Regions from separate parts of the Homo sapiens genome. Here all the other regions are reported to be linked to region 3. Evidence: microRNA targets listed by miRTarBase, many of them from high-throughput screens and not tested one by one. Region 3 holds a microRNA gene; each other region holds the end of a gene's coding sequence.

The links. The annotated mature microRNA hsa-miR-6822-5p reads CAGGGAACCAGUUGGGGCUU and lies in region 3 at 1,153-1,172, opposite strand. An mRNA with a match to its seed (bases 2 to 7 or 8) in the 3' UTR can be bound and repressed. Matches are read on the target gene's strand: a 7mer-m8 pairs with bases 2 to 8, a 7mer-A1 pairs with bases 2 to 7 and ends in A, and an 8mer does both.
Region 1: the mRNA of ZFAND2B is a reported target of hsa-miR-6822-5p. Seed matches in the 3' UTR shown: 7mer-m8 at 908-914.
Region 2: miRTarBase lists TM9SF4 as a target of hsa-miR-6822-5p. Seed matches in the 3' UTR shown: 7mer-m8 at 545-551 and 7mer-A1 at 1,935-1,941.
Region 4: miRTarBase lists BICRAL as a target of hsa-miR-6822-5p. Seed matches in the 3' UTR shown: 7mer-A1 at 2,549-2,555 and 7mer-A1 at 940-946.

Annotation. Positions count from the first base shown.
Region 1 is chr2:219,208,591-219,212,390 of GRCh38, forward strand. ZFAND2B (zinc finger AN1-type containing 2B) reads left to right here. Exons shown (of 9, transcript NM_138802.3): 7 at 1-49; 8 at 387-459; 9 at 672-1,058. The coding sequence ends at 716. ABCB6 (ATP binding cassette subfamily B member 6 (LAN blood group)) reads right to left here. Exons shown (of 19, transcript NM_005689.4): 14 at 3,797-3,800; 15 at 2,344-2,518; 16 at 2,121-2,233; 17 at 1,791-1,885; 18 at 1,640-1,708; 19 at 1,182-1,456. The coding sequence ends at 1,348. Among named protein-coding and RNA genes, the nearest start is that of ZFAND2B, 3.7 kb to the left of the region's middle.
Region 2 is chr20:32,165,151-32,168,857 of GRCh38, forward strand. TM9SF4 (transmembrane 9 superfamily member 4) reads left to right here. Exons shown (of 18, transcript NM_014742.4): 18 at 145-2,106. The coding sequence ends at 294. Among named protein-coding and RNA genes, the nearest start is that of PLAGL2, 41 kb to the right of the region's middle. RefSeq lists enhancers at 30-530, 3,396-3,690.
Region 3 is chr3:39,135,583-39,139,382 of GRCh38, reverse strand. It overlaps MIR6822 (microRNA 6822), which reads right to left and starts at 1,177; the gene lies at 1,117-1,177. It overlaps TTC21A (tetratricopeptide repeat domain 21A), which reads right to left. Exons shown (of 29, transcript NM_001366900.1): 23 at 2,876-3,026; 24 at 2,323-2,484; 25 at 1,996-2,188; 26 at 1,673-1,897; 27 at 996-1,116; 28 at 760-827; 29 at 483-672. The coding sequence ends at 595. RefSeq lists an enhancer at 2,236-3,141.
Region 4 is chr6:42,864,846-42,868,645 of GRCh38, reverse strand. It overlaps BICRAL (BICRA like chromatin remodeling complex associated protein), which reads right to left. Exons shown (of 13, transcript NM_001393499.1): 13 at 90-3,800. The coding sequence ends at 3,200. Among named protein-coding and RNA genes, the nearest start is that of RPL7L1, 13 kb to the left of the region's middle.

The sequences.
Region 1 (3,800 bases), not on the chromosome of region 3:
AGCGGGCCCTGGAAATGTCCCTGGCAGAAACCAAACCCCAGGTTCCAAGGTACCTTACCCTCTTGTGAAAGAGAGCGCAAGCTGTGGGCAAGGGCTTGGTCTGGAGGCAGGTAGGTGGGACCACTCTGACACAATGCAAGATAATCGCTGGCAACTTGGTCTCAAAATTAAGATGAACTATATGATCTTTGACAAGTTATTTAACCCATGGAGCCTTCATTTCCTCTATAAAACGGGGACAATACTAATACCCACCTTGTAGTGTTGCTATGAAGATTGAGATAATCCTCAGCAGTGCTCAGCACCATGAGGCCCAACACACACAGATCAGATGTTCAAATTTCAGATCTTACCATCATCCAACTTAAACTGTTTCTCCCTCCCAGTTGTCAGGAGGAAGAAGACCTAGCTTTAGCACAAGCACTGTCAGCCAGTGAGGCAGAATACCAGCGGCAGCAGGTATGAGGCTGGGCTGAAGATATATGCTGCAGTGGAAGGGAGGAAGAAGTCAGGGATGGGGGTTCTTCCTAGTGGTGCAGAGTTTTGGAATGGTGGTTATCGTCTGGTTTTCAGTATGACTCCAGCCCATGCTGAGCTCTGAAATGAGGGCTGTCCCTCATTTCCTTGACGTTGCACTGTGTCTTCCCCTCCTTCCCCTCTCTTTGCTCTAGGCCCAGAGCCGCAGCTCGAAGCCGTCCAACTGCAGCCTGTGCTAGGGCCCTGGGCTTGGGGAGGGAGGTTCACCTGAGGAGGACTGTGGCCCTCACACCTCTAGGGTACACAGGGAGAGGAGGCCCGGAGCACCCTGGAGGGCAGAGACAAGCGGGAGTGATGTGGAGGTCGCCCTGGGAGCCTCTGGAAGGCCTTGCTAGTGCTCCAGCTGCATGGAAGAGAGCGGCTAGCAACTGTTCCCTGGTTGGGCCCTCAGTGGATGCTGGCCAGGCCCTACTCTTAGCCCCTTCATCATGTCATCTCCCTTATGCTGGAGCTGCCCCGATGTGGAGTGGGCAGGAAGGGGCCTGGAAAAAATAAAGGATCTTGGCAGTTGATAAAACGTACAAGTGGTGTGTTTCTCTCTCCTCTCTAACCTCAAACAGGAAAGCCGTGTCAAGAATGCTCATCTGACTTATGGGTAGAGGCCCGCTGCAGTACCCCATCCCACAAAGCCACAGTGATCCTCGCACAGTCCACATTTTTATTTCCCCAAAAGATGTTTTTCGGAAAGGTCCCTTTCCCTTACCATAGCTAGCACCATACCCCAAGACCAGGATGAAATAAGCCAGGGAAAGGAGACACATCTTATTCCCTTCTGGGTTAGTCTTTGAGAGGGAAGTGGCCAAACTTTTGTCACCGTTCCATGGTCTGAGGCTTAGTGTCTTCAGAGGTTTCTTCCTGTCCCTGCTGCAGCTGCCACATGTCAGCATACACCCCACCTCGGGACAACAGAGCCTCGTGTCTGGGGTGAGGAGAAAAGTGTGAGTCCTAACCATTAGTTTTACCCCGAGGGTCCTTGCCACCAGCCCACAGAGAGGACGGGATGGGAAGGGAGGTCCCCTCCAGAAGCCCCTGGGACTTCATGCCCCCTTTCCTGGAGCCCCCAATTCAGAAGACCTGTCCTTTTGATCTATGTGTCTCTTACCGTCCCCTCTCCACGATGCAGCCATCCTTGATGACGAGGATCTGGTCAGCATTGACCACAGTTGAGAGCCTGAGAAGTCAAAGATCAGTCGCCTACTACCCCACCCAAAGCGGGCCACATCACCAGCCGCCCCAGGCCTGTAGTCCTGTACCTGTGTGCCACTACGATGGTGGTGCGGTTGGCACAGACTTTGGCCAGAGAAGCCTGGATGGCCCTCTCATTAGATGTATCCAGCGCTGACGTTGCCTATAGAGAGGGTCCAGGTAAAACTGCTCCTGCCACTCAAAACCCTCAATGGAAGGAGGCAGGCTGCTGGCTGAGGCCTCAAGAATACACAAGAGCCTTGTTTGGGCTTGAGAACTGGAAAGTGTGTTTTGTGAGATTTGAATTCATGGTATCTGTTCTAGGTGGGGACAGTGCCCAGGAGGAACGGCTTGAGCATACACAAGGCAGGAAGGAGGGGAGGAGACCCAGGGCGCACCTCATCCAGCAGAATGATGCCCGGAGCCTTGAGGATGGTGCGGGCAATGGCGACGCGCTGCTTCTCCCCGCCGCTCAGCTTCAGTCCCCGCTCGCCCACCTGTGTCCTGTACCCTGTGGATATTACCCACCACACGTTTCTTACGAAACGGAGGGAACAGGGGTCAGGGATTAGCAGGACAACACCAGGAGGGGAGGGGACTCTCTGCAAAGGAATCTCTCACCTTCAGGGAAAGCCATAATGGCATCATGGATGCCTGCAGCCTGAGCAGCAGCCTCCACCTCATCATTCCCAGCTGTGACACGGCCGTAACGGATATTGTCGGCGATGGTGTCATTAAAGAGGACAGTGTCTTGGGGCACAACTCCAATGTGAGACCGGAGAGAGGCCTGGGTCACCTAGGGCCAAAAGACCACACACTCTGCCTTATGAGATACCCCCAAGGCCTGGGAGGCAGGGTGGGCTGGCCGGAAGCACGTGGGATAAGAGGCTGTGGTAATAATCCCACCATCACTGCCCCATATCCTAGCCGTGTGGGCAAATCACTCCTCTCTGTTTCCCCATCTTCTCTTCCTGCTTCACCAGATTGCTGCAGATGTTTTGTTTTGTTTTTGGATAGAGTCCACTCTGTCACCCAGGCTGGACTGCAGTGGCAAAATCTCGGCTTACTGCAGCCTTGACCTCCTGGCTCATGCAATCCTCCTACCTCAGCTTCCTGAGTAGCTGAGACCACAGGTGCTTGAGACTACGTCAAGCTAATTTTTAATTTTTTGTTGAGATGGGGTTGCCAGGTATGTTGCCCAGGCTGGTCTCAAAATCCTGGACTCAAATGATCCTGCTGCCTTGACCTCCTAAAGTGTTGGGATTACAGGTGTGAGCCACCACACCTGGCTACAGAATATCGTTGTACCTTTTTTTTTTTTTTTTTTTTGTTTTGCTTTTTGTTTTGAGACAGGGCCTTGCTCTGTCACCCAGGCTGGAGTGCAGTGGCATGATCATAGCTCACTACAGCCTCCTGGTGGGACTACATGTGTGTGCCACCATGGCCAGCTAATTTTTTTTTTTTTTTTTGAGACAGAGTCTTGCACTCTTGCCCAGGCTGGAGTGCAGTGGCGCCATCTCGGCTCACTGCAAGCTCCGCCTCCTGGGTTCACACCATTCTCCTGCCTCAGCTTCCCGAGTAGCTGGGACTACAGGCGCCCGCCACCACGCCCAGCAAATTTTTTGTATTTTTCGTAGAGACGGGGTTTCACTGTGTTAGCCAGGATGGTCTCGATCTCCTGACCTTGTGATCCGCCCACCTCAGCCTCCCAAAGTACTGGGATTACAGGTGTGAGCCACCGCGCCCAGCAATTTTTGTATTTTTTGTAGAGAGGGTGTTTTGCCATGTTGCCCAGGCTGGTCTTGAACTCCTGGGCTCAAGTGATCCACCTGCCTCGGCCTCCCAAAGTGCTGGGATTATAGGCATGAGCCACTGCGCCCAGCCCTTTGTAGCTTTTATGGCACCATACAAATCCTTAACATGACTACTTTACTTGTGTGACTGTAGGTTATATCATGCTAGAATGGCCCTAGTTTTTTTGCAAGGGTGACATCTCCTCTCTCTGGACAGCCAGCCCTTATCATTCCTCCACACGTAGACCCCTAAACCACCGTCTTCTCCAGAGCAACCCTACCTGT
Region 2 (3,707 bases), not on the chromosome of region 3:
CTGCCGCTTGCCACCCACTGGAGCACGCCCCTTCCCCTGGCCAGGCCTCAGTTTCCCCATGATATCAGTGAGAGTGGGGCCCCAGTTCGCCATGCAGCCTGGCACTAAGCATGCACCCTGTCTTCTTTCTGCTCGTGGCCGCAGCTGGACATCGTGGAGTTCATCCCCTCTCTCCTCTACTTTGGCTACACGGCCCTCATGGTCTTGTCCTTCTGGCTGCTAACGGGTACCATCGGCTTCTATGCAGCCTACATGTTTGTTCGCAAGATCTATGCTGCTGTGAAGATAGACTGATTGGAGTGGACCACGGCCAAGCTTGCTCCGTCCTCGGACAGGAAGCCACCCTGCGTGGGGGACTGCAGGCACGCAAAATAAAATAACTCCTGCTCGTTTGGAATGTAACTCCTGGCACAGTGTTCCTGGATCCTGGGGCTGCGTGGGGGGCGGGAGGGCCTGTAGATAATCTTGCGTTTTTCGTCATCTTATTCCAGTTCTGTGGGGGATGAGTTTTTTTGTGGGTTGCTTTTTCTTCAGTGCTAAGAAAGTTCCCTCCAACAGGAACTCTCTGACCTGTTTATTCAGGTGTATTTCTGGTTTGGATTTTTTTTTCCTTCTTTGTTTTAACAAATGGATCCAGGATGGATAAATCCACCGAGATAAGGGTTTTGGTCACTGTCTCCACCTCAGTTCCTCAGGGCTGTTGGCCACCCTATGACTAACTGGAAGAGGACACGCCAGAGCTTCAGTGAGGTTTCCGAGCCTCTCCCTGCCCATCCTCACCACTGAGGCCACGACAAAGCACAGCTCCAGCTCGGACAGCACCCTCAGTGCCAGCCAGCCTCTGCCAGACCTCTCTTTCCCTCTTCTCCCCAGCCTCCTCCAGGGCTGCCCAAGGCAGGGTTTCCAGCCAGGCCTCGGGGTCATCTTTTCACCAGGAGCAAACCCAAGTCTTAGTTGCTACAAGAAAATCCCCTGGAAGTACTGGGGGCCAGGTTCCCCAGACAGCAGGAATTGCCCCTGTTCAGAGCAGCCGGAGTTTGCTGGACCACAAGGAAGAAGAGAAGAGACTTGCAGTGAACTGTTTTTGTGCCAAGAAACCCTGGACCTGGGGCCAAGTATTTCCCAAGCCAAGCATCCACTTGTCTGTGTCTGGGAAGGGATGGCCAAGGCCGCTAGGGTCCTTACCCCTCAGGATCACTCCCCAGCCCTTTCCTCAGGAGGTACCGCTCTCCAAGGTGTGCTAGCAGTGGGCCCTGCCCAACTTCAGGCAGAACAGGGAGGCCCAGAGATTACAGATCCCCTCCTGTAAGTGGCCAGGCATTCTCTCCCTGCCCTCTCTGGCCTCTGGGGTCATACTCACTTCTTTAGCCAGCCCCATCCCCTCCACCCCACACCTGAGTTCTTGCCTCCTCCTTTTGGGGACACCCAAAACACTGCTTGTGAGAAGGAAGATGGAAGGTAAGTTCTGTCGTTCTTTCCCCAATCCCCAGGAATGGACAAGAAGCCAACTTAGAAAGAAGGGTCTCACGTGGCTGGCCTGGCTCCTCCGTAGACCCCTGTTCTTTTCAACCTCTGCCCACCCGTGCATGTCATCACAAACATTTGCTCTTAAGTTACAAGAGACCACATCCACCCAGGGATTAGGGTTCAAGTAGCAGCTGCTAACCCTTGCACCAGCCCTTGTGGGACTCCCAACACAAGACAAAGCTCAGGATGCTGGTGATGCTAGGAAGATGTCCCTCCCCTCACTGCCCCACATTCTCCCAGTGGCTCTACCAGCCTCACCCATCAAACCAGTGAATTTCTCAATCTTGCCTCACAGTGACTGCAGCGCCAAGCGGCATCCACCAAGCATCAAGTTGGAGAAAAGGGAACCCAAGCAGTAGAGAGCGATATTGGAGTCTTTTGTTCATTCAAATCTTGGATTTTTTTTTTTCCCTAAGAGATTCTCTTTTTAGGGGGAATGGGAAACGGACACCTCATAAAGGGTTCAAAGATCATCAATTTTTCTGACTTTTTAAATCATTATCATTATTATTTTTAATTAAAAAAATGCCTGTATGCCTTTTTTTGGTCGGATTGTAAATAAATATACCATTGTCCTACTGTTTTGTCTTGAATCTCATGCAGGGGTTGGAGGTCTGAGGTGAGACACCTTCCCCGAGTGGGTTGAGTTGCACAGTTTCCCCCGAAGCTCATTCTCGTGTCACACTTCAGGGCTCAAGCCACTGTTGTTCCCTGCCTGGTACAAGTCCATTGCCTAGCCCCTCCATACTAAATTGCAGTCATTTGCTCTTCTGATCCCACAAGCAGGAAATGACAATCAAGTGTGTTTTGGTAGCAGCAAGATCTGGTTTTGGATTCCCAGCTTCAGTCTTTTACTGTCAGCTCATCTCACTCTATGAAACCCAGTTCTTCAATTGTAAGCAACAGAAACATCGGTCAAACTGGTTTTAGCCCAAAAATGAATTGATTGGTTCTTAAGTCATCAAGGATTTTGTTTATTTTGCTTCAGGTCTGGCTGGATCCAGGGGCTCAAAGGATAGCCTTAGGGCTCTTTCCCCTTTTCCACTGTGCTCCTCTCCGGCGTCACTCTGTCCTGTTATCCACAGTCTTCCTCCTGATGGGTGAGGCAGGGAGGGCAGGATGCCAATCACTCCAGACTTACATGATCCACTTGGGTATGCCGGGGGGCTGGGGTAGGGGAAGATGTCCCTTCCCACTTCAGTTTATTCAATATAGAGGAATTTCAGGAAACATTTCTGATTGGCCCAGCTTGGATTATTATTTGAACATCTTGCACCAATCACTATATCCAGGGGGTTGGAGTATGATTTGGGGCCACTTTCCCTGAAGGTGTTGGATACTGTGAATTTCAGCCCTACCAGAATTACTTAGAATGGTTGATGAGGAAAGAACCATTTCCCATGGTAAGGGATGCGAAACAGACCAAAACAGTGGCCTGTTACCCACCACCCCGCCACCCCAACCCCAAGCCTCAGTTCCTCATCTGCAATGGGAAAGGTGCTTGTTACTATTTATGGAGTACTTCCTGTGTTCTGATGTTCCAAACACTTTCCATGGGTTAGCCCATTTAATCTTGGATATGATACAAGATAACAACGTGCCCCTGAGACAGCTTCTGTTATTAGCCCCCTTTTACAGAGGTGGTCACTGAGGCACCAAGCAGTTGAGGTAACCTGCTGGGGCAGGATGGGGGGTGATGTCCCATGATGGGTGGAGTAGTGTTCACCTGGGACAGCCAGACTTCTGAATCTGTCCTTCCAACCTCTCTAGCCGCCTTTTTAAAGGGCTGTGTGTGTGTGTGTGTGTGTAAAATTATATGTAATTGATGTAAAATGAACTGCAGTTTGATAAGTCTTGATACACACACCCATGAAATTATCACCACAATCTCAATTGTGAGCATACCCAGGTTTCCTCATGCCTTTCTTTATAATCCTGCCCTCTAGCCTCTCAACATCATGCTTGTCCCCTCCAAACCTCATGTGGAAATTTGATCCCCAGTGTTGGAGGTGGAGCCTAATGGGAAGTGTTTGGGTCATGGGAGCAGATTCCTCATGAATAGATTAGTGCACTGGGGGAGGTGGGAGCAGAGGAGGTGAGTGAGTTCTCTCTTAGCTCCTAAGAAAGCTGGTTGTTAAAAAGAGCCTGGCACCTCCCTGCAACCCCCACTTCTCTCCCCA
Region 3 (3,800 bases):
CAGGGGCAAGGGAAACAATGCATGGACAGGGTGGGACAATGGCTCTTGCACCCTGCAGGCCCTCTCACACAGGGCCTTAGCTGTGCGGGCCTTCTGCAGTTAATCCTCCTGTCTGGGCCCACTGCCCACAGCATCCTGGGCCCACCGCCAGGCAGACTCAGGGTAGCATGGCAGGGAGAAGTATCTGCTTCTTTAGCTCCAGGATCCTGGAGACCAGACAGGAGAGGGGCAACAACCATTGAAAAACAGCTGAAGGGGATTCTTTTCAACCACCATTCCACTAGGAGCCCCCTCTTTGCTCCCCTCCGCCCCCTCAAAGAGTCTGGGATAAAAGCGAGGTCTGTTAGAAAGCGCCCAATGAGCCCAGCAAAAGTTAAGCCAGTTGATGTCTTTCTTCCCAGAGCAAAATTTCTTGTGCCTTAAAAACATAAAGTTAGGTCAGATGAGACATGACTCAAAATAAACCACATACACTATAGAAATGGGGAAGAATGTGTCATTTTCTGAATCCCTTCTCCACTGACCCACTTTCCATCCCTCCACACAACTTCAGTAGGTTGATGGCTTCTACTGGTCCAGGCCCCTTGACCCCAGCTAGGGCCTCAGGGACCTTCGGGCCTTTTCCAAAATTTCCTCCCTGATCTTGGGGTAGTCGGGGTGCTCCCTGAGGACCTGGAACAGAGAGAGAATGGGTGTGCAGTATCATGCAGGTTTCCCCACCACTACACCAGGCCCTCCCCACCAAGGCTGCTGGCTTACATCGTTGCAGATTTCAATGGCCTCCACAAATTTCTTGTCCTTCAGGTAGTTGAAAGCAAGTTTGAAGCCTACCGGGGACATGGAGAGCAAAGATGGTGGCACCCTGGTGACCTGAGAACCCCTCTGGTTCTCATAACAGCCAGGGTACAGGCCTTGAGTTCTGGGGTCATGGTGGGGGCCCTCCTGCCCACCTCCCTCCCACGTCCATTCACGTGCACCCTGGCTGGTTGCCTTACCAATGGCAGGGTTGGCGTGATGACTGTACTTCCAGGCCAGTTTGTAGTTGGTGACTGCATCCTTGTAGGACTGCTCCTTCTCCATGATGAAGCCCATGTACTCATAGGCCTTGTAGCAGGACTGCAGGGAAAGCCAGTTAGAGCCTCTGCAGAGCGGAAGCCCCAACTGGTTCCCTGGGCCAGGGTGGGACTGGGACCAGAACCAGAAGCAGGCAAGGGACAGAAGTGAGCTGCCATAAACCAAACTGCCAAGGGACCCCAGGGGTACCCCAACCTTTGCAAGAAGCCAACTGTGTGCCCTCCTCTCAGCTACCCCAGACACTGGCGTAACCCCTTTCCCTGTAGCCCTCCTGTTCCGCCACTCCCATTCCTGGCCTGCTCTGACCTGCAAAAGTCCCTCCAGCTTGGAACCCATGAAGCTTTCCCATCTCTTTCTGTCCTTTAGTGTTCCCTCCTCTGGACATAACACGACCCCTGTGCACCTCCTCTCACCTGGTCCATCGCCCTTGATCCTCATTCCTATTCTGGTCTGTCGCCCATGTGCCCCTCTCAGCCTGCCTCTTCCCGACTAGTTCTTATTCCATATGGCCTCTACCTGCAAAGCCTGCTTCACCTTCCTGGAATGCCTAGAATCCTTTCCGCCATCCCGCAGCCCTAGTGTGTGTGTGGCTCCTTGCCTTGTTGTATTGCACACAGCGCCGCAGCAGTTCTAAGGCGAGGTCGAACTTGCTGCCCTGGCAGTAAATGTCAGCCAGCAGGAGCCAGCTCTTCTCCAGGTCCTCAGCCTCACTCAGCACCCAGGGGGTCTTGGCCAGGCGCTTCAACTGCATACGCGCCTTGGGGATCTGCTTCAGGAACACGTAGGCTTGTGCCAAGGCCAGCAGGGCAGGGACGCTGTCCTTCTACACACCAGGTAGGAAGTGGACGTCAGCACGTGTTGGCCGCCTGGTCTTCTCGGCCCTGCCACCTGCCCATGCCCGCCAGTCCCCACCAGCCACACCTCAGCCTGCGCTATCTGGATGAAGCTGCCCAGCGCAGCCTCCATGTTAGCCTTCTCCCTGGTGGCCAGCCGGCAGAGGCCCTGCAGCAGCCGCAGCTGGGTCTGGCTGGAGTCTGAATGTGGGTAAAACTCACGCAGCAGTTTCTCGGCGGTGCTCACACCCTGCTGCTCCAACTCCTTCTTCTCCATGTAGCTGCAGGTGTTAGACCTGGGTATCAGACACAGGCCGGTGGCCTGCCCGTGTGGCCCTCACCTGGCTTCAACCCAGAGGTTGCAGGCTTTCTGTAACTTCCCCAGGGTTCCGCCCCTGCCTCCATGGGCCCTTACTTGCTCTCAGCTCCCTGGTTCTCAAAAGCCTCTCCGCCCACAACCTCGTTGTCTGGATTCAGACAGATCTGCACCATGTGGTAGATGGCGCTCTGGCCCCAAGTGCTGTCCTTGCGTGCCTTGTTCAGGAACTTTAAGGCTTCGTTGGGCTGCCCTATGTGCCTGTGGTGGAGAAAACACCAAGAATCAGTGAGGGAAACTGAGGCCCAGACAGGGCAGGGATATACAAGGACCACTTTGTGAGTCTGCACAAAGCAGAGGCTGGATCTCTGGTTTCCCAGCTCCCCTGGAGGAGATGCGGGCGTCGGACCTGTGTGTTGGATGCAGGCTGGTGGCCTGCCCAAGTGGCCCTCACCTGGCCTCCATCCAGAGGCTGCAGGCTCTCCCTGACTTCCACAGGGTTCCACCCCTGCCCCCATGGGCCCTCACTTGCTGGGTCCGGGTGTCCTGGAGGCAGAATTTCTGCTCCTTTTGTGCAGAGCAAGGGCCTAGCCTATCTGCCAGTAGGGCTTCCTGCACACAGCTGCCCCTCAACACACCACACCCAACTCACCAGCAGTAGATACCTCTGCAGTAATTGAACCCTGGTTCCAAAGGCACCCGGCTAGACACCTTCTTGGCCAATTCAAAGAAGGCAGGAATGTCTTCAAGTTTTCCACTTCTTCTTAGCAGATCGATTAATTTATGCAATACCAAAAAATTGTCTAAAATAAGAGACAGAAATCTCCAGGCTGAAATGCCCAGTAGCTGTTATCAGATGAGGGTGCTGGGGCCCTAGGAGAAGCCAAGAGATACTGCCCATCTGGGCTGAGCAGGGACATTCCAACAGCTCCAGAGTCTCCACTGGTCTCCAGGGTTGAGTAAAGAATAATACTAATGCTTAAAAATAGTAAAGAATAGCAGCTAACACTTATATAGCACTTATATTGTACCTGGTATTAAGTGCTTTACCTATATATTAACTGCAAGATTAGGTAGGTACCTAATCTTTTTTTTTTTTTTTGAGACGGAGTCTCGCCCTGTCACCCAGGCTGGAGTGCAGTGGCGTGATCTCGGCTCACTGCAAGCTCTGCCTCCTGGGTTCATGCCATTTTCCTGCCTCAGCCCACCCCCGAGTAGCTGGGACTACAGGCACCCGCCACCACGCCCGGCCAATTTTTTTGTATTTTTAGTAGAGACAGGGTTTCACCGTGTAGCCAGGATGGTTTCGATCCCCTGACCTTGTGATCTGCCCGCCTCGGGTTCCCAAAGTGCTAGGATTACAGGTGTGAGCCACCATGCCCGGCCTAGGTAGGTACTCTTATTGTGTCTGTTTTACAGATGAGGACACTGAGACATGGAGAAATAATTTGCTGAAAGTTGCACAACCAGTAAGTGGTAGACCAGGACTCAGACCCAGGCAGCCTGGCCCCAGCACCCATACTCCTAACCGTGGTGACCTCCTGGGCCTATGGGCACACTGCCATGGGCCTGCCAGG
Region 4 (3,800 bases), not on the chromosome of region 3:
AAAATAGAATTCCCATTGAACACTTACCCTTTTCTTCTGGGAAAAGTAGCCATTCCTATTTGCAAAATCAAGACAATCACAGTTGCACATTTTCCCAAATCTTTGGCTGTATTGCAATGGTTGTTTCAATTTGTAATCTCCAACTAAACATTTCCTAACCATGGATTAACAATATAGTTACTGACTGGTTTCTTTTAACAGTATTTATCCAACATAACAAAATAAACTGCAATTTGTTATAGTTTTTTTTTTTTTACAAAACATTTTATAAATATTTTTACAAAATGTATACAAAGCAATTTCAAGTGAGACGTACTATACAAATGAAGGTATTTAAGCAAATAAAGCCCACACCACACTGACAGCGAGTGACGCGTCCTCTTTAAGTAAAGTCAGTCTGTAAGGCCTCCCTAATCTAACAGAATCTACTAAATCCTTCAGAGCTAAAATATTTCTTTTTCATAATTGCCAGATTAAAATTTTGCTTCATCTTCAGGAAGTACTTAAGGACACAGAAAATCAAATGCTTAATAACAAATTCACGCTTTTCCACAACAGAAAAAAAAAAAAAAAAAGAAAATGATTTTTGTTACTGAGTACAAATAGTTCTAAAACTTAACTTTGACGAATGAACCTGAACAACTGAATGTTGGCCATCCGAGGCTGAGCTCTCCTACCCTTCACTAGAGGGGGCTCGACATGCGAGTTATGACCCATGTGCGTAGAACCTAATCACAGGAGTGAAATACATGTCATAATCTTCATTTGTCATTATCTAGAATCCTTCCTCCATAAAAAGTAAACTTACATACAATGACACAAAAATTTACAAGTTTCATTTTGGTAAATTAGGCTCTCCATTTGCTAGACAAGTGTTAGGGCTTAAAAACCCTTTAGGATGGTATATAGAAAAGCTAGGATTGGGACAGCAGGGCAGGATAGGGAAGAAAGAGAGGTGACAAATGTACATGAAGCTTATCTTGTCTCTTGAGAATTCCACTGATTTGCAGTAATTAATGTAACTCACTAGCAGCCCACATGAAGGCTTCCAGGGATAAAGTTCTGCAATGAGAAGAATTTGATTAGGAAGGATCATCTTGCTAGGAATTAGGGGAGCATGAGCCCCAAGGGAAGAAAAGCCTATGAAATCATGGAGTTTAGGGCAGGGTGTTACCCTAGGACTACCCAAACAGAAAGTACCAACTGGCGACACCAACTTATCTAATATGTTACAATACAGGAAAAAGGGGAAATCTGCAACTTGGACATTGGCACAAATAAGGAAAAAATGGTAACCCTAAAATGGGCCAGATTTTCCAATTTGTATTGGCTGGGGCATGTGGCTGGGGTGAAGGTACGTTGCTATTATGAAGACTGGCCATCTCACAGGGTTTTCTGTGTGTAGTGGGACACAGGGGCACCGGGGTATAGGTCTTCTGTTGCTGTGTTTTCTAATTAGAAGCCTTCCTTTCCATCACAGGCCAATCTGGAAAAGAAATGCCCAACATGATGACAATGGGGGTCATCCCCATGTTGGCGACAGCCAGAAGCAGATTCTGGCAACACATTAAAGTGAAGACCAGTGGCTGCACCTCCAGAGCCAGGGAGATAAACAGAATAAATGAGAGAGTATGCACACTAAGAAGGAGAGTGAGTGTGCACACACTGTAACAAAAATGACCTCTGGATCCGAGCAGCTCAGATACATGCACGTGTGTGTATGTGTGGGAGAAGAGTGCATAAAAATACTATCATGTAGCTTTCCCAATGAGAGGAGATAAGTGATGGTTACAATGACATTAAGAATAAAGGTAACAACAGAAATGGGATAACCTGGGGCAGGTATACGAGAAAGGAAAACGGAGAATACTCCCTGACAAGAAATAAAAATAAATAAAGCAGTAAGCCATGCTCACTAATATGAACACAGGCCAAACAGAAACCATGACAGGGCATATCCTTTGGCTCTCAAATGGGAATCCCATGTCTCAGATCTTTCCTTTCAGTGGTGGGCTAGCTGGTTACCTTTGGTTTGTCTGTGTTTTGGTAATGAATTGCTGCCAGGGGTCACTACTGTTCTCAGACAAGAAGCATAAACAAGGCCAGAGTCTCCTTAAAGTTTAAACTGAAAAATTACAACATAATAATTTTCAAATGAAAGTGCTTTTGATGCTTGGTATTTGTTGTGGGAGAGGGTGCAAAGAGAGGTTAAATGAAACAAAATCCAGCAACAAACAAAAACATACATTATATGTTGACTATATCCAATTATAAAATGCAAAACTTGTTTTTTCTCAATAGTTAACATATATATGCTTTTACATATATACATATTAATATTATAACCCTCATGGCTCTATCCCGGCCTCCTCTGTACACTGTGCCTCTTAACTGGTTTCCATTTTCCTTTATTTAGCCTGGTGAAATTATTTCAAATTTTGCTGCTGTAACTAAGAACAGAACATTCCCTAGGTGAAATTCAACATAGATATGCCTAAAAGCATGAGGTTTTGCTCCGGAAGCATCAGAAAAGCACTTGAACCATCAATAGGGAAGCCCTGCAATGCCCTGCGTATGTGCTACTGGCTTTTCCACCAGGGCTGCGGGTCCCTGGCAGCACAGCCAGCAATTTACTGCTCAAAGATGGCTGAGGGGGAAGAACCATGTGGTCTTCCCCTCAACAATAACAACAAAACACACACAAAAAAACTCAAAATAATAATAATAAAAAAACCCAAAACTAAATTTGCAGATGCAGTGGGATATTCTTTAAAAAGTAGCTTCTATCCGTCTCGTTTGATTTTAGTAAGTCTGTTCTTTTCAAATGACTTATGATTGTCAAAATTTTACCAAGGGCCAAGTATACTGTGGTCTCATTGAGTTACAGTGTTTTTAAAAAACAAAACAAATAAACAAAATGCCTATAAGCACTTTCATAACACTTGAAATGAGTGGGGCCTATCAGACTGCTTTCTGCCAAGGATTAATTTTACTAAAGGATCTCCCTGTAATCACGACAAGTATTGCTCTTAAACAAAGAACAGGATTGAGATTAGAAAGAATAACCTGTGATGAAAGATCAAGCAGGCTGGAGACAGGAGACCATTTCCATTTGCTTTTGCCAGGAACGAATGTAACTGGTCCGGGGTGGGGTCTCGGGGTGGGGTCTCGGGGCGGGGTAGGGGGAGGACTGCTGCTATTAACACTCTAGGATACTATTTACAGCTGCTTCTAAAATGGAGTCAGTTTCTACAACACCTTCACTGTGGTCCGGGATGAACTTTTCCAGGCAGTTTTCCTGTGAAGCCATAGGAGAAAAGTTGGGGAAATCTAACTCAACAGAGCCGCTAACCGTGGGGTCACTCTGGGGCTGCCGTCCCGCCTTTTTGAGTTCCAAGATGTTCTTAAATGTGGTTTCCAAGCTCTTTGTCAGCTGGAGATCTGGCTGGGGTTCGCCTGACCCTTTCATGATGTCTGTGTGTAAAACTTCATTCTTTGGAGAATTCCTCAGACTTTTGTCCTGGAAGGAATTGTTACACGTCATCTCCAAGTGCGAATCTGCTAGGATGCTTGACAGTTTGCTCTCAGTACCATGATCCGATCTGGATGAGGTTTTCCGGTGCCCCTCAGGGCCGGGAGAGCACTGACTGGCCTTCAGAGGCTCTCTCCGGCTGGCCTTCTCTTCAGACGTGCTCTGGTACTGCACTAAGCCCACTTTGTCAAATTTCAGTGCTCTGCCAAGGCATTCTGTTTTTTTAGAAATGTTTCCTTCTGCAGAGACCACGATGTGATTAGGCACT